Linked DNA regions of Homo sapiens. The protein of the gene in region 1 interacts with the protein of each later gene in a biochemical or structural test. Each region holds a gene or a part of one and is shown in the gene's direction. Other genes may lie near its edges. The genes, in order: PTPRN, CAPN2 and NOS1AP.

The links.
Region 2: of the proteins of PTPRN (region 1) and CAPN2, one has a biochemical effect on the other in vitro, tested with the Homo sapiens proteins (one study listed by BioGRID).
Region 3: the proteins of PTPRN (region 1) and NOS1AP form a complex in vitro, tested with the Homo sapiens proteins (one study listed by IntAct).

What each region holds. Positions count from the first base shown.
Region 1 is NC_000002.12:219,306,344-219,313,848, reverse strand, and holds the start of PTPRN (receptor-type tyrosine-protein phosphatase-like N isoform 1 precursor), read left to right. Parts: upstream 1-4,447; 5' UTR 4,448-4,516; coding exon 4,517-4,631; intron 4,632-4,878; exon of another isoform or gene 4,879-4,967; intron 4,968-6,006; coding exon 6,007-6,057; intron 6,058-6,291; coding exon 6,292-6,405; intron 6,406-7,505. UniProt on the Homo sapiens protein: Plays a role in vesicle-mediated secretory processes. Required for normal accumulation of secretory vesicles in hippocampus, pituitary and pancreatic islets.
Region 2 is NC_000001.11:223,750,537-223,757,642, forward strand, and holds part of CAPN2 (calpain-2 catalytic subunit), read left to right. Parts: intron 1-353; coding exon 354-439; intron 440-1,460; coding exon 1,461-1,535; intron 1,536-2,259; coding exon 2,260-2,420; intron 2,421-4,943; coding exon 4,944-5,113; intron 5,114-6,832; coding exon 6,833-6,844; intron 6,845-7,106. UniProt on the Homo sapiens protein: Calcium-regulated non-lysosomal thiol-protease which catalyzes limited proteolysis of substrates involved in cytoskeletal remodeling and signal transduction. Proteolytically cleaves MYOC at 'Arg-226'.
Region 3 is NC_000001.11:162,072,659-162,079,764, forward strand, and holds part of NOS1AP (carboxyl-terminal PDZ ligand of neuronal nitric oxide synthase protein), read left to right. Parts: intron 1-7,106. UniProt on the Homo sapiens protein: Adapter protein involved in neuronal nitric-oxide (NO) synthesis regulation via its association with nNOS/NOS1. The complex formed with NOS1 and synapsins is necessary for specific NO and synapsin functions at a presynaptic level.

The sequences.
Region 1 (7,505 bases):
GGTCTCGCTAGCTCAAGAGTGAAACTGCAGACCTTCGCAGTGAGTGTTACAGCTCTTAAGGTGGCGCGTCTAGACTTGCTCGTTCCTCCCAGTGGGTTTGTGGTCTCGCTGGCTTCAGGAGCGAAGCTGCAGACCATCATCGTGAGTGTTACAGCTCATGAAAGCAGTGTGGACCCCACAACTGAACAGCAGGAACTTAATACAAAGAGCAAAAAAACAAATCCTCCCCCACGTGGAAGGGGACCCGAGTGAGTCGCTACTGCCGGTGGGGCAGCCTGCTTTTATTCTTTATCTGGCCCCACCCATATCCTGATGATTGGTCCATTTTAGAGAGAGCTGATTGGTCTGTTTTACAGAGAGCTGATTGGTCCATTTTGACAGGGTGCTGATTGGTGCATTTACAATCCCTGAGCTAGACACGAAAGTTCTCCACCTCCCCACCAGATTAGCTAGATACAGAGTGTCGATTGGTGCATTCACAAACCCTGAGCTAGACACAGGGTGCTGATTGGTGTGTTTACAAACCTTGTGCTAGATACAGAGTGCCAATTGGTGTATTTACAATCCATTAGCTAGACATAAAAGTTCTCCAAGTCCCCACCAGACTCAGGAGGCCAGCTGGCTTCACCCAGTGGATCCCACACCGGGGCCGCAGGTGGAGCTGCCTGCCAGTCCCGAGCCATGTGCCCGCACTCCTCAGCCTTTGGGTGGTCGATGGGACCGGGCGCCGTGAAGAAGGGGGCGGCGCTCGTCAGAGAGGCTAGGGCCGTGCAGGAGCCTACAGCGGAGGGGGAGACTCAGGCCTGGTGGGCTGCAGGTCCCGAGCCCTGCCCCGCGGGGAGGCAGCTAAGGCCCGGCGAGAAGTCGAGCACAGCAGCTGCTGACCCAGGTGCTAAGCCCCTCACTGCCCGGGGCCGGCGGGGCTGGCCGGCCGCTCCGAGTGCGGGGCCCGCCGAGCCCAAGCCCACCCGGAACTCGCGCTAGCCCGCAAGTGCCACGCGCAGCCCCGGTTCCCGCCCGCGCCTCTCCCTCCACACCTCCCCGCAATCTGAGGGAGCCGGCTCCGGCCTTGGCCAGCCGGGGAAGGGGCTGCCACAGTGCAGCGGCGGGCTGAAGGGCTCCTCAAGCTCGGCCAGAGTGGGCGCCAAGGCCGAGGAGGCGCCGAGAGCGAGCGAGGGCTGTGAGGGCTGCCAGCATGCTGTCACCTCTCAATAGCATTATGCATAATACTACCAAACCTGAAACAACCCAAATGTCCATCAGCAGAAAAATGGATTAAAAAAAATTTTTTTTTTTGATACGGAGTCTCTCTCTATTACCCAGGCTGGAGTGCAATAGCGCAATCTCGGCTCACTGCAACCCCCACCTCTCAGGGTCAAGCAATTCAGCTGCCTCAGCCTCCCGAGTAGCTGGGATTACAGGCATGAGCCACCACACCTGGCTGGGACTACAGGTACGTGTTACCACGCCCAGCTAATTTTTGTATTTTTTGTAGAGACAAGGATTCGTCATGTTGCCCGGGCTGGTCTCAATCTCCTGGGCTCACGTGATCCTTCTGCCTCGGCCTTCCAAAGTGCTGGGATCACAGGCATGAGCCATTGTGCTTGGCCTCTACAAAAAAAAAAAAAAAAATTAGCCAGGCATGGTTGCTCACAATGGTAGCTGCTCAGGAGGCTGGGGCAGAAGGATTGCTTGAGCCCAGGAGTTGAAGGCTGCAGTGAGCTATGATCTTGTCACTGCACTCCAGACTGGGTGATAGAGTGAGACCCTGACTCTAAATAAATAAATAAATGTTTAAAAATGTATTAGTCACTGTTAGAGGTCACTACACTACACAGACTCATTATTTTGCAGAAGGGTAAAGAGAAAAAGCTGAGAATATATGTTACCTTTCCAGTTGGAATTGCATTTTAGTGTAAACTAAACCCAGTTGATGAGAGAAAGCCCTTCTTTACAAAGTAAAATAAGCGATAAACGTGAATTGAATGATAGGATTATAAAAATCACCATTTTGCAACCTCTAATGAAATCATTTAGTCAAGGATGGATCACCAGTGAATAGTGAAACCATTAGGTGAAAAGTTGATGAGGAACTAGATAGTCTCACAGTGCCAAAGTATCATCCAAGAATTACATGCTGGTCACATTAGAAAACCACAGCTTTACATACAGAGATCTGGCTGTCTCTACCTTAAACCAGTGATCAATTTTAACATCACTAATAGAACAGTCAGACATCATGTACTTCCTGAAATGATGCAATGAGAGGCATTTTGCTTTAAAAATTCTTTAATTTGATACAGTCAATACTTCATATATAACTTCTAGTTTACAGGAAATACAGGTGATATACAGGTTATACACTGGAGAAATACAGGGAAATACAACATGAAGAAAAAAATCAGATAAACCCAGAAGAAGAGTTCTAAAGAAAAATTGACCTGGTCTATCAACATGACAATGTCAAAAATGGGGGAGGGGAGAGAGGATATGGTGTCTATGCTAATTTACAGAGATTAAGAAACATAACAAAGGCCGTGGTTGTTCTTAATTGACTGTTATTTTGAACAAAACACCTGAAAAGAAAAGGCATTTTTGGGGAAACAATCTGAGAAATTTGAATATGAACTGAGCATTAAATTATATTAAGGAATGCCCGGGCGCGGTGGCTCACGCCTGTGATCCTAGCACTTTGGGAGGCCGAGGTGGGTGCATCACGAGGTCAGGAGATCGAGACCATCTTGGCTAACACGGTGAAACCCCGTCTCTACTAAAAATACAAAAAATTAGCCGGGTGCAGTGGCAGGCACCTGTAATCCCAGCTACTCAGGAGGCTGAGGCAGGAGAATGGCGTGAACCTGGGAGGGGGAGCTTGCAGTGAGCCAAGATAGTGCCACTGCAGTCTGGCCTGGGCAAAAGAGCGCAAGACTCCTTCTCAAAAAAATAAAAAAAAAAATTTAAAAAATTATATTAAGGAATTATTGTAAATTTTTTTAGGTGTCATAACAGCACTTAGGTTATGCAGGAAAATGTCCTTATTTCTTGGAGATGCATAATGAAATATTTAGAAGAGAAATGTCATGATGTCTATCATTCATGTTTAAATACTAAAAAGAAGCAAATATTGTAAAACATCAATAACCATTAAGTATGGATGATGAGTATGTAAGTATTCATTATGCATTTCTGTCCTTTTTAAATTTTATTTTATTTTACTGGAAAGCAAGAGAGGAAGGAGATCAAATCTGAACTTAAGAAGCTCACTCCCCTACTTATTGGATGACTAGAGTGGAAGCAAAAGAGCAGTTACTAGCTGATTGCTGCAGTGGTCGTGGTGAAAGAGCACAGTGTTTCAGTTCAGGTAGTGAGGATGGACAGAAGTGGACTGATGGGAGATGTATTTTGCAGGGAGAAACCATAAAATGATTGATAGCCTCGAGGTGGCACAGACGGAGAGAAAGGAGAGTCAAAGCTAATGATGAGGCCAGGCCCGGTAGCTCACACCTGTAATCCCAGCATTTTGGGAGGCGAAGGCCGTTGGATCACCTGAGGTCAAGAGTTCAAGACCATCCTGGCCAACAAGGTGAAATCCCATCTCCAATAAAAATGCAAAAATTAGCCGGGCAAGGTGCTGTGCGCCTGTAATTCCAGCTACTAGGGAGGCTGAGGCAGGAGAATGGCTTGAACCCAGAAGGTGGACATTGCAGTGAGCCAAGATCACGCCAGTATCCAGCCTGGCCAACAGAGCAAGACTCCATCTCAATAAAAAATAAATAAAAGCTAATGATGACAGCTAATATGTATGGAGCATGTAGTATGCACCAGTCCAGTCATCCTTCTAAGTGATCCATATTAGTGTAACGAACAAAATCTTCACAATCACTGTGTGAGGCGGGTAGTAACTATTAACACCTCCACTTTGCAGATCAGGAAACTTGGACGCAGACAAGTTAAACAAGGTGCCCAAGGTCATACCCTTAGTAGATGCCCTGCTAGAACTGGAATCTAGGCATGCCTAACCATTTTTTCTTAAGGAAGAGAACAGTATCTTCAATGACAATGAGTAAGAGTACTTATTCTACCCACTTTTCTGCTTCTTGTCTTCGGGTTTATCGTTCTGGACCCACCTATCTTTCCTGGCCCCCCACTTAACTTAACCCTTTTCACCCACCCTGGGGCGGGGAGACAGAGGTGATCCTAGAAGAGGGCTACAGGGATGGGGCCAAGTGGGAATTCTAGCGAGGCGCCTACTATTTGATGGAGGAGGGATGGGCTAGGTAGGTCCCCCGCTCCGACAGGGCTCTTACGCCATATGTGACGCAAATTAGCTTACGAGCCGGGGGTGGAGGTGTCGTCAGCACCCGCCTGCGGTTGGCCGCGTTGCAGCGAGAGGGGCATGTAGACCCCGCCTCGTAGGGAGGTGGGGAGCGGCAAGCCCCGCCTCAGCCCCTCTGGCAGGCTCCCGCCAGCGTCGCTGCGGCTCCGGCCCGGGAGCGAGCGCCCGGAGCTCGGAAAGATGCGGCGCCCGCGGCGGCCTGGGGGTCTCGGGGGATCCGGGGGTCTCCGGCTGCTCCTCTGCCTCCTGCTGCTGAGCAGCCGCCCGGGGGGCTGCAGCGCCGTTAGTGCCCACGGTCAGGAGGAAACTTGGGCTGGCGGGTGGTGGGGGGCGGGGAGCAGCTTGGGGCCTGGAGCGAAACTCGGTGGGGGTGAGGGTGAAATGTCATGAAGCTCGGGGAGAATATGGGTTGGGGGAGGCATGCGAGATGAGGAAGGTGAGAGGGCGTCTCGGAGGAAAGGGGCGTAGGCCTGGAGGTGGGGCTGGGAATACGGGGGCGGGACCTAAGAGAATTGGGCTCTGGGGAAAATTGCAGGTTCGGGAGAAGGACACGGGGTGCATGTGGGCAGAGGGACTTAGAGACCGGCTGCGAGACCACAGGAGAAGCCACTTGCTCCGAGGCGCCTGGGAGGTGGTGACAGGCGCTGAGGAATGGGAAGGGGAGGTGGCGGGGAGAATGAGGGAACGGTGATCTCTGGGCAGTGGAAGCCTGGGCCGCAGACATAGAGTCCCAGCTGGGCAGAGAGAGAGGCCAGGGTTTCTCCGTAAGCCTAGAGAAGCTGATTGCAGCGATCTGATCTCCTGTAACGGGGGACAGCACGGGGAGGGGGCAGAAGAGGATGAAGAGGGGAGGGTCCTCTCTTGTCCCCCTCCCCACAGCCAGGCCTGGTGCTGACTCACATCTGTGCGGACAGAGACAGTCAGCGCTGACTCACGGACAGGGGGTGGGGGATGGGAGGGTGGCGCGTGGGGGAAGGGGCGCAGCCTCGCCGCCTGGCGCCCTCTTTCCCCACCCGGGCTTGGAGGCCCGAGAGGCAGAGTACTTCCTGTGACGCTGTGGGTTGGCAGAATACAACAGAGGGCTCAGGTCTAGTGGAGAGTCCTCGCTCTGTGACCCCTTCCTCTCTGGTAACCGCCTCCAAGGCCAGCCCTTGGCGGCGCCAGACTCAGAGCTTCAGCACCGCGGACAGCGCCAGCGGCTCGGGACAGCGCGAGGAGAGATGCCTAAGAGACACCCTCCCCAGCCCCACCCATGCCCTCTTTCCCCCGACCGGGGGAAGTGTGCTAGAACCTCTTCTGAGTTCCAGGCCATTATAGGATGCTTTTCCATATTTGGGAAGGAAATTCCTCTTTCAGAATTTGGCCAAAACCTCTCCTGCAGTAATTCTATGAATCTCTCTCCCTGCACCTGGAAGGTTTCTTCCCTATCACTCAGTTAAGCAAACAGAGGCTTTTAAGGATACAGACTCACAAATTCTTAAAATCCAAAACAAGATCCCATGCTTCCTTTTAAGAAATTCAGGCCTGATTCCTACTCTCCTCCCAGCTTAAGGCCTTCTTTAGAATGAAAGAATAAATTGCATCTGCTTCTCCCGTTCCCAGCCTGTCCACCCATCTGCCCATTCTCTGTGAGTGGGTGTCTGAGCCTCTGCTCACCTTTTCCTCTACAGGCTGTCTATTTGACCGCAGGCTCTGCTCTCACCTGGAAGTCTGTATTCAGGGTGAGTGAGGCCCAAGCATAGAACTCACAAGATCGGGGGGAGAGGGGCAATAAAAAACAAGAAGGGGAGAGAAGGCCCAGAAAGGAAGAGGGCTACTGGGCTTGAGAAGAAGGAAGACTTGCCTGGAGGAGGAGAGGTAGGGGAGAAAGTGAAGAGAGTACAGTCCATTTGCAACCTGGACTTTGGAAGGCCTCTTATTCAAGCCCCCTGCTGACACCACTTTTGTGCCCTTAGATGGCTTGTTTGGGCAGTGCCAGGTGGGAGTGGGGCAGGCCCGGCCCCTTTTGCAAGTCACCTCCCCAGTTCTCCAACGCTTACAAGGTGTGCTCCGACAACTCATGTCCCAAGGTAAGGTCTGGGTGCACTGGAGGAGAGAGATTGGAACTTGGTTAGTTATGGGTGGGGAAGAAGATTTCTCTTCAAGGAATATTCCTATCACCCCCACTGCTGGAGCCTCACCTTCCCATATCTTGCTAGAGTAAGAGGTGGAACCCTAGAGATGGGCTATTCACATTTGGACTCTCTGGAGAAGCCCAGAGGAGCCTTCTAAGAAGAAGTCACTGGAAAAGGCCAGCTTCCATCTTCTTAGGACCAGTTCCTCTCACTGGCATTGTCTGAGTGCTACAGAGCCAAGAACTCTGGAATCCTCAGCCAGGATAATATTCCACTCACCCAATTCCTCATTCAACAAGTATTTATTGAGTACTTACTATGTAGCAGGCATAGTTTTAGGTATTTGGAATGTATCGGGAATAAAACAAAGATCTCTGCTTACTGGAGTTTCTGTTTGGGGGATAAGGGGAGGAAACACGCTATAAAAGTTAGAAAATACATAGTGTCTTAGAAGATGATAAATAGCATATAATATTATAGCAGGATAAAGTGATCAAAATGGTGAGGTAGAAAGCTACAGTATTAAATGAGGAAATCAGGTGGTTAAGGTGGACATTATTGAGACTATGAAATCTGAACAGACTTTTTAAGGAGGTGGGGGAGTTTGTCAGAAGATTATCTAGGGGAAGAGTATTTCAGGCAGACCAAACAGTTAGGACAAAAGCACAATTCTGAAGAGCACCATGGAGGCCAGGGGACTGTAGAAGACTGATGGAGAGGAAGAGTAGAAGGTGAGGTCAGGTAGGTAATGGGGGAAGGGATGTGGATCACTTTAGGGCCTCATAGGGGAATGTATGGACATTAGCTTTACTCTGAGTAAAGAAGGAAACTATTACAAGATTTGGAGCTTGGGGGCACATGATCTGACTTACACTTGACAAGCATCACTTTTGCTGCTGTAGTGAGACTAGAATAGATGGAGTCAAGAGTTGGTGAGGGGGACCACTAAAAACCACCACAATAGGTTGCTCTGTCTATGGAGTGCCATTCTTTTGTTTCTTCACTTCTCTAATAAACTGCTTTCACTTTACTAAAACAAACAAACAAAAACTACC
Region 2 (7,106 bases), on another chromosome or scaffold:
ACCAGTGATCTTTCAACAAATGGTAAAGCTTCTCTGAGCTCCTTTACCAAAAGCGCATCCTGTCAGTTAAGCTGAAGTTCAGAGATGAAGCACCAACAGCCCCATCCTCGAGAGCCGGATCCTGGGAGCTTTAAATCTCATTTTCCAAAGCTAGGCAGCAGTGAGAGGTCTGGGTGCCAAGCCCCCTCTAGCTCTTGTGATCCTCCCTCATACATGGACTCAACCCCCAAATCCTCCCCACCGTCCTCAGCCCCATACCTCCTGGCTCATGCGGAAGGGGGTTGGAGGCCCAAGCCTTCATAGCCCTGACTTGAACTCAACCTCTTACTCCTCCCTTTTATCTAATCCTGCAGGTTGAAAGTAACGGAAGCCTACAGAAACTGATCCGCATCCGAAATCCCTGGGGAGAAGTGGAGTGGACAGGGCGGTGGAATGACAAGTGAGGAGGGCGCAGGCCTCGGGGCCCCAGGCGGGGGTGCATTGTGCTGGGAGGCTCTGGGAAGAGGGCGAGAGAAGAAGACATGTGCATTATTCTGAGAAATATAGCCAGGAGAGCCCAGGCCACGTGGACAGGGACCCGTGGACAGGGGCCCCTCAAAGGGTCTTTTAACCAGGACACTCCTCCAGCAGCCTGAGTGCCTTCTTCCAGGCCCCAAGCTGCTCGTGTGAAGTTCATTCCTGCCACTGCCTCCAGGTTCACCCCTTCCCTAGCTCAAATCCACCCTTCTATGGGGCTTTCAGGGAAAAAAATACACCCCACCTTCCCCCAGGCACTTCTATTACAGGGATGTGAACTTTGTACCAAAGGCCAGAGAAACATCCCTCTGTTGATTTCCAGGGCTTACTGGTAGGCATGTTGAACCCTCAACTATTTGGGGTAAACACTTGTTTGTACATCTGCTGTGGCAACCTCAGCCTACTTGCTCTGCCTCAGGTTGGAGAGGTGGGCAGTACAGAGGCCTGTGTGTAATTCCAGCCAAAGCTCAGGCAGTGGTTAGTTTACCCTGTGCACTGCCCCTGTGTACAGGGCCAGGTCCTTCTGCTCCGTGGACAGAGAGACACCTGCTGAGGCTTCCCAGGCCTCAGCCGGAGGCTCCTCATCAGATCTTCAGTTGTCTCTAAAAGAGCTGCCAGGCCCATCTCAATTGGGCAACTGCTCTGAGCTACTCCATCTCCCTCTAATGAACTATGTTCATTTTCTGGACTCTTCCTTGCCACTGTCTTCCAGCACAACTCACCCGCTCACTTTGCTCCCTGGTTTGCATCTGTATAGTGTTCTATACTCTTTAAAGTGCTGTAAGAGTATTAAAATGCAGCTGTTAGCCAGATGTGGGCTACTTTCCCCCTTTCTGGAGCCTGAGCCCTCAGAGGTGAGAGCAGATGTCCCTCTTCCTCAACTCTGGGGCCTTTGGGGAGAAATCATCGTACACTAACGCCTCTCTCTTTACTTTGTTTTCCAGCTGCCCAAGCTGGAACACTATAGACCCAGAGGAGAGGGAAAGGCTGACCAGACGGCATGAAGATGGAGAATTCTGGTAAGATTAGTGGAGGCTTCAGGGAAAGCTCTGTCTGCCCCAATGTTCTTTACTAGAAAACTGCTAATTAGAAAGAGTGTCGGCCAAAGTGAGTTTACCATGTCGAGGACACAAGCGTGTGGGATCCTGGTTTTGTTATTTTAAGTTCACTATAAGAGCCTGAATAAAGAAATTCTTAAGCCCCTTCAACGGTCCATCTTGACAATGGGGTTTATAAGCTGAGCAGCTTCAGAAAAAGGCTAAGAGGAATTCCTTTGGTAATGTTCAGATCCCAGGAAACAAGGGAAAGATGGGGCCTTTCTCCCCCAGGTTCCGGAGACTCATCCCAGCCCCTTAAGAAACTGGTCCCTTAGTGAGCAGCAATGGACCCACATGTCTGTGTGTCTGCGCCACTCTATAACCACCTGCACCTGGACACAACATGCTCTTTATCAAATGGGGCCCATATATTGTCACATTTGATGGGCACGGCTCCCATTTTTGCAGGTGAGAGTTCTGAGCTTCAGAGAAGTTTAAGTAACCTGCTCAAAGTCACCCAGCTAGAAAGTTGCAGCGCCAGGACTGGAATCTGGGCCTTCTGATTCTGAACCTGGTGCCCATCCACTCAGTTCTAATGAGCTGCTCTGCCTGGCTTTGGGTGGCTCCTGGTCTGGTGTTGGTGGAAAGTCAAGGCTTACCAGTGTGTCTTCTTATCACCTGTGATGATTGTCTCTGCTTTTGCCAGGATGTCTTTCAGTGACTTCCTGAGGCACTATTCCCGCCTGGAGATCTGTAACCTGACCCCAGACACTCTCACCAGCGATACCTACAAGAAGTGGAAACTCACCAAAATGGATGGGAACTGGAGGCGGGGCTCCACCGCGGGAGGTTGCAGGAACTACCCGAGTAAGGGCTGTTGCATATAAGGGCTGTTGCAATGCGGGGCCACCAAAGGCCAAAGCTCCCCTTACCCCACCCTGTGTACCACACCCCAGCCTAGCAGCCCCAGGAGGCAGCTCCTGCTCACTGGAACCCTCTCTGTCTTCTTTCTCCCTGAGCCTTTTCTTTTCCCTGAGCCTTTTCTCCCCGAGCTCTCTTTCTCAATCCCTTACCTCCTGCCCTACCCAGGACAAACCCAAGAGCCACTGTTTCTGTGATGTCCTCTCCAGGCCCTAGATTCCCCAGCGCCCATCATGACCTTCAGCCTGACCTTCCGCCATGCTCACGGAAGCAGTGCTCAATCCCACTTCACGGCCATGAGCTGCTCTATGCACCCCACACCCAGGCAGCCGAGCCTACAAGGGAACCTTGTCCCGGCACCCAGGGAGCCCTCCACATATCAGGCCCTGTTTGTTGCCCCATACTCACTTCAATCAGCAAATGTTGACTGGGCGCTGCCCAGATGGGGTGAAGATTTCTCCTCTGGTCCAGCCTTTGTTGAGCCCCTTGATTCTTCTGCCTTCATGGCTTAGTCCGTCAGCAGTTGTCTGAACATGATGACATCTGCCAATTATGGGGCACACCTTCAGTGCTTGGAACTATCCTAAGTGTTTTGTACACAGGGTGAGGATCCATAATCTGAAAATGTGAAATCTGAAATGCTCCAAAATCCAAAACTTTTTCAGCCCCAACATGATACCACAGGTGGAAAATTCGACACTTGACCTCAGGTGACAGGTCGCAGTCAAAACACAGTCAAAACTTTGTTTCATGCACAAAATTATTTTAAATATGCTATAGAATTACCTTCAGCCTATGTGTATAAATTATATATGAAACAGAAATGAGTTTTGTCATTAGACTTGAGTTCCATCCCTAAGATATGTTATGTATATACAAATATTCCAAAATCCAAAAAAATCCAAAATAGGAAACACTTCTGGCCCCAGGAATTTCAGATAAGGGATATTCAGCCTGCATAACATTCTATCTAACCTTCCCAACAAACTTCTGAGGCAGGCACTTTCTTATCACCTCCATCTCTAAGATGAGGAAACTGAGGCTTGGAGAGGCTAGTGACTTGCTGAAGGCCACAGAGCGTGCTGGGATTTGAACCCAGGCCCCCTGACTGAGGAGTCACTGTGTAAGTACAGTGGCAGCAGATCATGGTCACATAGTGATTCTCTGTGACAGATGAGGAAGCTGAGCCTCTAAGTCGCATACCAGGGCCACAGAGCAAGTAGTCAGACTGCGGCTAGCTGGCCTACAGTTCTGGGGCTCGGACTCCTTCACCTCAAGTATGCAGCCACCAAGTGGCAGTCCCAGAGGCGCTGGGAAGGCCCTCTGCCCCCCACAAGGGACCCCTCCTACCCACTAGATCAGGAGTCGGAAAACTCCCTCTAAAGGGTCAGATAGTAAATAATTTTGGCTTTGTGGGCCACTCAGTCTCTATAACAACAACTCTATTGCTATAACCCAAAGGCAGCCATACTTAAGCGAATGGCCGTGGCTACGTTCCAATAAAACGTTATTTACAAAAACAGGCAGCGGCCTTCGGAGCCATAGCTGCCAACCCCTACACAAGATGGTGCCTGTAATTTCACAGTTAGGGTTTTATCCCATTAGGTATGGAAAGGCAATTAGCATAATTCCCCTTAAACATGAATGAATCTTAGATTTTTTAAATAAATAGGTTTTGGAAGTAAAGAGGGCAGAGACATCAGGAGCAGGGCAAGGGAATAGGCCTGAGAGGACAAGGGACGCAGAACAAGAAAGAGTCTGGAATTATACACAGGATGTTCTTGGCCTCCGGGCTCACCGAGGGGGCGGCGACCGGCAAGTGCAGGGAGCAGATCCCGGAGTCCCCCAGGCCAGCCGAGCCCCGCCCCAGGCTCCCCATCAGAGCCCAGTGAAGAGAAGGTACCATGAGGGGAAGCCACAGCTCTAACCACCCTGCGTTCCAGAGTGACAGACCAGTCCCCAAGACAAGCCAGCCTGGAGCCAGAGAGAGAACTGCAAGAGAAAGTTTCTAATTTAGGTTCCTGTTAGATTCAGACAAGTGCAGGTCATCCTCTCTCCACAGCTACCGTCACCCGTCTCCAGCCTAACAAAGCCTGCAGTCCACACTCCAACCCTGGTGTCTCCCACCTCCTAGCCTCTCCCAACATCGCCTGCCGTCTCTGACCATCTTCTGCCATCCTCTGCCATCTCCCACCATCTCCCACTGTCTCCCACAGCCTCCCACCGCCTCTTGCCAACTCCCACCATCTCCCGCCATTTTCTGACATCTCCCGCTGTCTCCCACCATCTTCTGCCATACTCTGCCATCTCCCACCATCCCCCACCACCTCTTACCATCTCCCACCACCTCCCACCATCTCCCTTTATCTCCATCCCTCTCAGAAGCCTCCAAGCCTGAGACCAGGGCCACCCCCCACCCCCATGCATTCCTGCTCAGGGCTGGGCTCCTCTGCCCCTTTCTGGCTGCAGACACATTCTGGATGAACCCTCAGTACCTGATCAAGCTGGAGGAGGAGGATGAGGACGAGGAGGATGGGGAGAGCGGCTGCACCTTCCTGGTGGGGCTCATTCAGAAGCACCGACGGCGGCAGAGGAAGATGGGCGAGGACATGCACACCATCGGCTTTGGCATCTATGAGGTGCAGAGCGCAGGGGCTCCTGCCCTCCCTTCCCCATGTGTTCATCTCAGCCCCTGCATGGAAAGCTGACCCCAGAGGCAGAACTGGGGATGGGATCCCAGACCGGGAGCTTGGCCAAGGAAAAACAAAACTACCAGCCTGGCCAGGCTCAGGAGTAGCCCCCGTAGGGAGGCCCCTGCAGTGGCTCTGGGTTGTGGGGCCTTCTAAGCCCTTCACGGGCCCCCCACAGCCAGCCTGCAGGGAGTTCCACTCTCAAATGGCCTCCACATCCCTTCTCACATCCTCCAGGCCTGGCATTCTGGTCAGCCTACCCATCTTCAAAGAACAGAATATACTGGGCCACATCAGGCAATACTGTGAGGGCAGGACTGAGTCCATGGGTGCAGCTGCTCAGAGCTCGGCAAAGTCATTGGCCTGGATGGTGGAGAGCTTGGGGACAGGGGAACATTGGTCATGATGCTCCCCCCAGGGCTCTGATGGCTGGAGCCCAGATCCCTACACAGACTCCTGCTGTATGCGTGTTTTCCTTTCACTCTGAGCCACAGCCAGAGGGCAGCCGCATTGCAGTCTCCTCTCCGCCCTCAGGCTGGGGCTGGGGCACTGAGAACTCACCCAACACGCTGGGCCCCTGGGCTCTCCCCACTCCCTTCTGCAAAACAAGAAAGAGCTTTCGTGGGCTGCAGGTAGCCATGCGAGGAGAGGGATGAAAGGAAGGCTTTAGGGCACTGACTGGGGATGCATTTCGGTTTGATGGGCTGGAGCTGGCTCCTCCCGGCTCCCAAAGCCCATCTCTTTTCTCTGACCCATGTCTGCTGAGGTCCTTCAGCAGCCTGAAAAATGGCCCTGGCAGGGACCTGTTTACACCATGGAAAGTGGCAAATAGTACAAATCAGAGCTTCCACCCTCTCCCAAGAGCCAGTTTCCCAGCACACCCCTGGGAGAATCCAGACGAGGTGTCAGGAGAGGAGGCTCTGTGCTCACCACTGGCAACGTTGCCACCCATGGAACACTGACTTCTACCTGCTCACCCACCTGAGAAAGGCAGCTGGGCAAATACCATCAGTTGTAAAAATGCACATAGGCCTAAACCCCTCCGTCTCTGAAACAGGAGCTGAGGACTTCGGATCTGGGACAGAATCGATCCAAGGACAATGCAAATGGAATTGTGATACACAGCTTCCCTCCCACCGGCTTATGGGCTTGGAAATGCAGCCACGGGCTTTCAGAGTTGGGACGGACCTTGGGGATCACTGGGTCCTATTTTTGAGACAAGAAAACTGAGGCCAGAGAGGAGAGGGGACTTGCTCAAGGAAATGCAGACCGGACCACTGGACCTGGCTGACAGAGGCCGGCACTGCTGGCTCCTAGCCCCAGGTGTATTTCACCTCGCCTGCTGCCTCCTCCAACAGGGCCCGCCTGGCCCTCTTTCCCTGCGTGGGAGGCCGATATGGGCTTTGCCACCTTAGACAAGTCTCTTCACATCTCCATGCCTGAGATTTATACTCTAAGTTAGGAAGGGAGGTGAGGGCTTATCAACATAAGAGGATTTTCTTCAGTGTTGGAGAGGCTTTGAGTTCCTTGGAAAACAGTTACTCGGTTGAATTAGTTGATATTGCTAATGCTACAGAGAAAACGGGGGCAGCGGAAGAGAAGAGCACAGTGATGCATTTTCTTACACTGCTTTTCCGGCATCTGAATTGCATCTCCTTTATTTTGCAGGTTCCAGAGGAGGTACGTCTGGCCCATGTCCCGGGGTGCTCAGGTCACCAAAAAAGCGAGAGGCTTAGACTGCTGGAGCTCAGGGAGCGTCGTGAAGCCCGGGCAGGGGCTGGTGGTCATGAAGGATGAGTCCTGGCCACCCCTGGGGCCCTGCTGAAGTTGCCCAGGCTCTAGATCCCACTGGTCTAAGCTCTGGGCAAGGTTTCTGGAAAGTCCTTGTGGGACCCGCTGCCTCCCTGTGACCTGGCAGAGCCCATACAGGGTTTGGTTCTGG
Region 3 (7,106 bases), on another chromosome or scaffold:
TCCCAGATCTTTGTAATTGATGCTGCACCCTGGCACATTCAAACACCATGTTAGTCAAGACCTAAGCAGAGGTGGAAGCACGAGCTTTTCTGTCCTACATGCTCCTGGTAAGAGCCTTCTCTGGCTGTTTTCCACATCCCTGCAGAGCAGTGTCTATGCAACTGCACAATCACTGGGATTTCAGGGTTAAATCCACATCGCAGTCTTCCCTTGTTTTGGAAAAATGCAGGCTGGAAAATGCAAATGTATTATTGTTGCCTTGTCGGGTACCCTTGGAAAATGAGTGCAGCTCTTTCTCTCCCAAGGGCTGGCAGTTTTTCAGAATCAACATTGGATTGAGTGTTCCTTTGGAAGTATGCCACTCATTTTCAGGGTTCTGCAGAGATTGAAAGGTGTGGGGTTAGGATCGAAGGGCATCTGGGTGGCAGAGGTTCTGTGCACTTAAAAACCCATGCATTTAGTTATCAAGTGCAATCCCAGATTTTTTTCACCTGCAGTACCTCATTTAATTCTCACTACTTCCCTAGGAGATGGGTCTCCTTATGTCTATTTTATAAACGAGGACATAGGCTCAGGGAGGTTGTTGCGTGCCTTAGTGCTCACAGTTGTGTATGACAAAGCCAAGATTTAAGCCTGGGGCTTTGACTTCAGACTCCCAAATCCAGTGCCTTTTCATTCAATAATTTTTATGGAATATTCACTCTATGTTGGCCACGGGTTTGAGTCACAGCTCTCTAGTGGAGTGTTCTCAGGTTGCTGGCCTCTAGAACTCTGGTACAGGAAATTATTCAAACATTTATTTATTTATTTATTTATTTTGAGATGGAGTTTTGCTCTTGTTGCCCAGGCTGGAGTGCAATGGCATGATCTCAGCTCATCACAACCTCCAACTCCCAGGTTCGAGTGATTCTCCTGCCTCAGCCTCCTGGGTAGCTGGGATAACAGGCATGCGCCACCATGCCCAGCTAATTTTGTATTTTTTGTAGAGATGGGGCTTTCTCCGTTTTGGTCAGGCTGGCCTCGAACTCCCGACTTCAGGTGATCTGCCTGCCCCAGCCTCCCAAATGTTGGGATTACAGGCGTGAACCACTGCGCCCGGCTCAAACTTTTAATGCTTGGCTGTTTCCAGATTTCCCTTTGGGCTGAGAGCTGCTTGCCAGGGAAACCTGTTGTCTGTGTTCAGAGTGGGTACCTGGCTTACTGACTGATGCTGGTGGGTGGGTAAATCTCACATGCCCTGAGAGCCTGTGGCTCCTTAGTAACTGCCTCCTGATCTCCCAGTATGTCTTCCTGGTGGCCAGTGCCATCAACTGACTGTCTCTCCTCTCTTGGTGAGAAAGAGACTTTTAATGCTATGGGTACAAAGGATAATAAGAGTATTAATAATAGTTATATCTTATATCTGTAGGTGATTTTTGATTTGCATTGGACTTCTACATACAAAGACTTTTCCTCTTATAGAGACAGGCACAGGCACATTAGTGTTATCTCGATTTTTCAGACCAAAAAATGGAGATCAGAGAGATTAATTTGTCCAGAGTTGCAAATTGGTGTATCAGTTAATGATATTTATTGAGCACTTACTATGTGCCATACATTATTCTAGCCTCTGCCTCACTTAATCCTCACACTCCAGGGCTTTTGACTCCAGGTCCATGGTTCTTTCACCTCCTCCAAGGCTCACTCAAACCTGAAGTATTAATAGTTGCTCCCTTTGTAGTCCTAACACTCATTGCCTAGATTGTTCCCTTATATCTGCGTGTATGATACAGATGGTCAGAACTGGAAAGCACCATGGCTCATCTAGTACAACCCCCTCACCCCATCATTGTACAGATGAGGAAATTGAAGTTTGGAGGGGAAGTCATGGACCCAAGGTCACATAGTCAGATAATAACAGAACCAGGACTTATCCCTGGTTCCCTGGCTTCAAACTGGTTTCAGTTATCCATCACTTCAAAACAAACGACCTCAAGACTCAGTAGCTTGAAACAATAACTGTTTAATTTGCTTATGAATCATGGCTCAGGAATTCAGGCAGGGCTTGGCTGGGCTGTTCTTCTGTTGCTTATGGCGTTGACTGGATCACTCACTTTGCTGCATTCATCCACAGCTAGGCTGGAATGTTCAAGAAGGCTTCACTCATATGACTGTGCCTTGGTCGTCCTTCATGTGACTATTCTCTTCACTGGCTGGCTTGGATTTCCTCACAGCATGGTGGCCCTTTTGTTTGGCAGCTGGTTTTCAGTAGGGGGTGTTCCAAGCAGGAAAGCAGAAGCTCTTAAGGTTGGGTCTTTCTGAGTTACATAGGGTCACTTCTGCCACATCCTGTTGGTCAAAACAGGCTATTAGGGAAGAGACATAAGCCCTACTTCTTGATGGGGGAATGTCAAGTTCACATTGCAAGATTGCACGTGGGATGAGAGATATTGCTGAAGCTGTTTACCACACAAAATTCTGTTTTTTCCTCTCTGCATATATCTTCTCTGGTGATATGGAATGTTCTTTGAGGACCTTGCCTCATGCCTTGGTGTATCTCCCCCTCCCAAGCCTCAACATCAGGTACAAACATAGTCACAATGAAAAATTGTCAAGTGGAAGAAATGACCAATTGTGGAAAGTCTGAAAGCAGTAAATATCATTGCTGAGTGATTTTGTGGCTTGGGAGCATGTGGTCAGATTGAAGCTGAATTCTCTGGCTATATTTCCTTCCTTGCTACCTGGCTTCATTGGTTGATGGTTTCCCTGATGTGGATTTTAGAGATTCCAGTAACCTCAGCAGGATATCTGTGGATGCCTCTTAAACATACGGCCATGAAGGCCTCCAGATGAATGACATTTGGTCACCGTAAATGGGGTATCCCTGACTCGTCTGAGCCTGCATGGCATGGTACAGAGCTCTCAGAACCATTCCACTATACACTGGGTGTTTATGTCCCCTTTCTCCCTTCTCTCCACCCAGACTAAGGGTCCTGTCTTCCAGGGTTCTGGAACAGTAGCAATTCAGATTAAGGGTCTGATGTATTTTCTGATGTCATCATTAAGGAGGAGACGTAGTTCACTTTCTTATGCTTTTCCAGATGCTTTTAAAAACACTTATCTTCTGCCCAGACTACTTTTTTTTTTGGTGGGGGGCAGTGAGTTCCAAAGATACAGTACTGCTCTGAAATGACACCTATTTTATTTGTCCTTACATTGCTCTCAGATGTCCCAGTATGTTCCTCCACACCTGGTATCTTGGGATTTGATGGACAAATCTATTTCCACGTTAGCTGTACATTTCATGATTTTATGGCTTTCAGTCGTAGTTCCTTTGCCCACAATGTCCCAGTCCTTTTTAGTGGTCAAAATCATGCAGCCACATCTAATGATGACCTTTGCCAGTTATCTATACTAATCAGGCTTGACTCACTGTTTACTATTGCCTACTCATAATGCAGCTACTCCCAAGACTCAAACTTTCAGAATGCTTTCGCTGGCTATAATTACCTGCCTTCCCTTTATACCTTTGTTGCCTTGAGGATGCTCTTAGCTCCTCAGTGACCTTTTTGCTGCCCTTGTCCTGCTGTCTACCCTCCCCAGCAGCCTGGGACCATGCCCATGGCCGTTCCTTCCTGCCTTTTTGCCCTACCCTGCAAACTTGATCTTTGCTACTTTTCTTCTTCCTTTCTGTTTTTGGAAAAGACCATTTATATATTTTCTTTGGAGAATGTCTATTCTGATCCTTTGCTCATTTAAAAGTTGGATTGGCTTTTTACTATTGAGTTCCCTCCTTTCTAATAGTTTTATTGAGATGTAGTTCACATACCATACAATTCACTAATTTAAAATGTATAATTTAGTGATTTTTAAGATATTACAGATCTGTACTACCAGCACCACAGTCAATTTTAGAACATTTTCATCACATTAAAAAGAAACACTAGGCTGGGCGCGGTGGCTCACTGCTGTAATCCCAGCATTTTGGGAGGCCAAGGCGGGTGGATCACTTGAGGTCAGGAGTTCAAGACTAGCCTGGCCATCATGGTGAAACCCCATCTCTACTAAAAATACAAAATTAGCTGGGCATGATGGCACACACCTGTAATCCTTACCCCCTGCGTCTTCCCAGACCTGAACAGCCACTAATCTACTTGCTGTCTCTAGATTTGCCTATTCGGGACATTTCATATTTATGGAATTATACAATATGTGGTCTTTTGTGTCTGACTTCTTTGCCTTAGTGTTGTGTTTCAGGGTTCATCTATAATTTATCAGTACTTAATTCCTTTATATGGCTGGATAATATATCATTGTATGGATATACCACATTTGGTTTGTTCATTCATCAGCTGAGGCACATTTAGGTTGTTTCCATTTTTGCCTCTTAAAAATAATGCTATAAACATTCATGTACAAGTTTTTGTGCAGGCATGTTTTTATTTTTATTTTTTAAAATTTATCTTGGGTAAAAGTAAAATGGCTGGGTCCCATGGTAACCATGTGTGACCATTTGTGGGACTTCCAATGTGGCTGCATCGTTTTACCTTTCCACCAGCAGTGTGTTCATATCTTCACCAATGCTTGTTGTCTGACTTTTTGATTCTAGCCATCCTCCTGGGTGTGAAGTGGGATTTCATCATAGTTTTGATTTGCATTTCCCTTTTGAACAACATAGAATGTCTCCTCATTCCCTAGGAAGCAGACTCAGAGAAAAAAAAAAAGACCATCTTTTCATGTGTTTTTTGGCCATTTATATATTTTCTTTGGAGAAATGTCTATTCTGATCCTTTGCCCATTTAAAAGTTGGATTGGCTTTTTTACTATTGAGTTGTAAGAGTTCTTTATATATTCTGGATTCAAATCCCTTATATAGATTTGCAATATTTTTACCCATTCTGTGGTCTTTTCACTTTCTTGGTATTGTCCTTTGAAACACAAAGTTTTAAATTTTGGTGAAGTCCAATTTTTTTTCTTTTTCCCTCATTTTGAGATCCATCTGCCTTCCATGTCCTGTTAGTCTGCCCTTGTCCTCTTAATTATGCCCTTCACTCCCCACCCCCACCCTGGCACAGTTACATCTCCTGGGCACTGGCTTACTCCTCCCTGCCTAAGAGTATGCTATGGCCTTCCCTGTATGAAATACCTCTTCTTTCCACCTCTTTCTTTAATTAACATGTTGTCTTTCTCCTCCTTTCACAGCTAAGCCTTGTGAGAGAGTACTCCACCCTCTGCAGTATCTCAGTCTTCATTCAGTCCCTGGCCACTTCCTTCCAACTTCTGTCCTGGCTGCTGTACTGAAATTGCTCTGCTGCCCCCTTCTCTATCCTCATCCTTTTTGACTTTTCTTCCTGAGCTGCCTGTCCTAGTCCTCTGTGGAATGCCTCATTGGGCTCTCTGTGCCTGCTTGCAGTCAGCCAGCCCCTTGCCCCTGCCCATACCTCCTTCTTTTGTGGCTGTTCTACCTCCTCCCTTTGCCCTCTACTGTGAGTGCTCCATTCCCTCTCCTTTGGATTCTATCTACTCCCACTCTTCTGTTATGCAGGCTGCTGGCTCTCTACTTCAGTCCAGACTCCACATCTTTATGCGCAGCTTCCTGCTGGTCATCTGTACCTGAATGTGTTGCTGTCCCTATCACTCAACAAGCTGGAAATCAAATTTCTCTTCTGACTTCATTGTCTTTTAACGACCCCACCATCCTCTTGGGCACATGGGCCTGACACTTTAAAGTACCCCTTGTATTCTTTGATTTAACAGCCAACTCAAATTTGCTGTTTACTGGGTACCTATGATGTCCAGGCTCTACTCTCCTGTACCCCACATCAAGTTAGGTGCCAAATCCTCTTGAATGTTCCCAGTGACATCCATCCACCCACCCTGGCTGGTCCATCACCCGTTCAGATGCTCCACCCCCTCCCCTGTTATCAGGGCCATCAATAACCTTCTGAAGGCCTCCAGTGTCCCACTTGTTCTCTGATCCCCCTCATCCCTTAAACTTTTGCCCTATCAATTTTCTTGAAATGGTTATCCTCCCACTCAAAAACATGAAAAGTTTCTGTACCTACTATATTAGAACCAAAATTCTTAGTATGATATTCAAGGCTGTTTTTGAACAATTCCCTTTAATCACCCTGGGCTTCAACCCAACTGTAGTACCCACCATTCCCTTAACCCTCACTGCAGTTTCCCACCCCGTTCACAAGTCACTCTGTGAAGTGGATGTTACCAGTCCCACCTGCTTTGTATTAGAGCTGCTTGTCCTGTCCAATTTTCATCCCTACATTGTCATTGTCAGGGTCCATGTCACTCTGCCCCCGTGTCTTCCACAGCCCTGAGTACAGTGCCTTGCACATAGAAAATGTATTTTGAATGAAAGAGATGATCCCTATAAGATGGCCAGGACCCTCCTGGGTCACCCAATGGTGAGAGGTGCCTTAATTGACTCTCCACTCCTCCCCACCATTTCTCTTGCTTTAGTCTAGTAACTTCCGGTTCCCAGTGGCTTGAGGGACCCCCCAGCATGGCCTCTTTCTGATACCCCCAATCTCACACAGTGCTGATTCCTTCCAATGAAAATACCAAGTAAGCATTTTTTTTTCCTGAATTAAATAAAATTCCACTGATGGATGTCCAGTGGAATTAGAATCTGAATATAGAACATATGGCCAATTTCAGGAGTAGGTAATTGTCATTTCTCAATTGTCATTTATGTAAGAAACATTTTCAACTTGTTTTCTCATTAATGAATTGATGTCTTTTTTTTTTCCTAATTCATGGTTTATTTTCTGTAATTTGCTACTTTGCAATTTTTATGACATGAATTTGGTTGGTAGCATAGCATGGCATGAATTCAGGAGCCAAACTGTGTTTGGGTTCAAATCCTGGCTCTATCCCTCACTTGCTACTTGACTTTGTGTGAGTTATGTAACATCTTTCCTTTAGCGTTCTCATTTGTAAAAAGAGGATACAAATATCTCATACTTCGTAGGGTTAATGGGAGGATTGAATCAGTAGTACCTGTAAATGGCCTAGCACCGTGCATGACACAGAGTTGGCTGCTGTTTTTATTATTGTTATTAAGTCCTACAAGTTGCAATTTAGTTTCATCTGTGCATGGTTTTAATCTA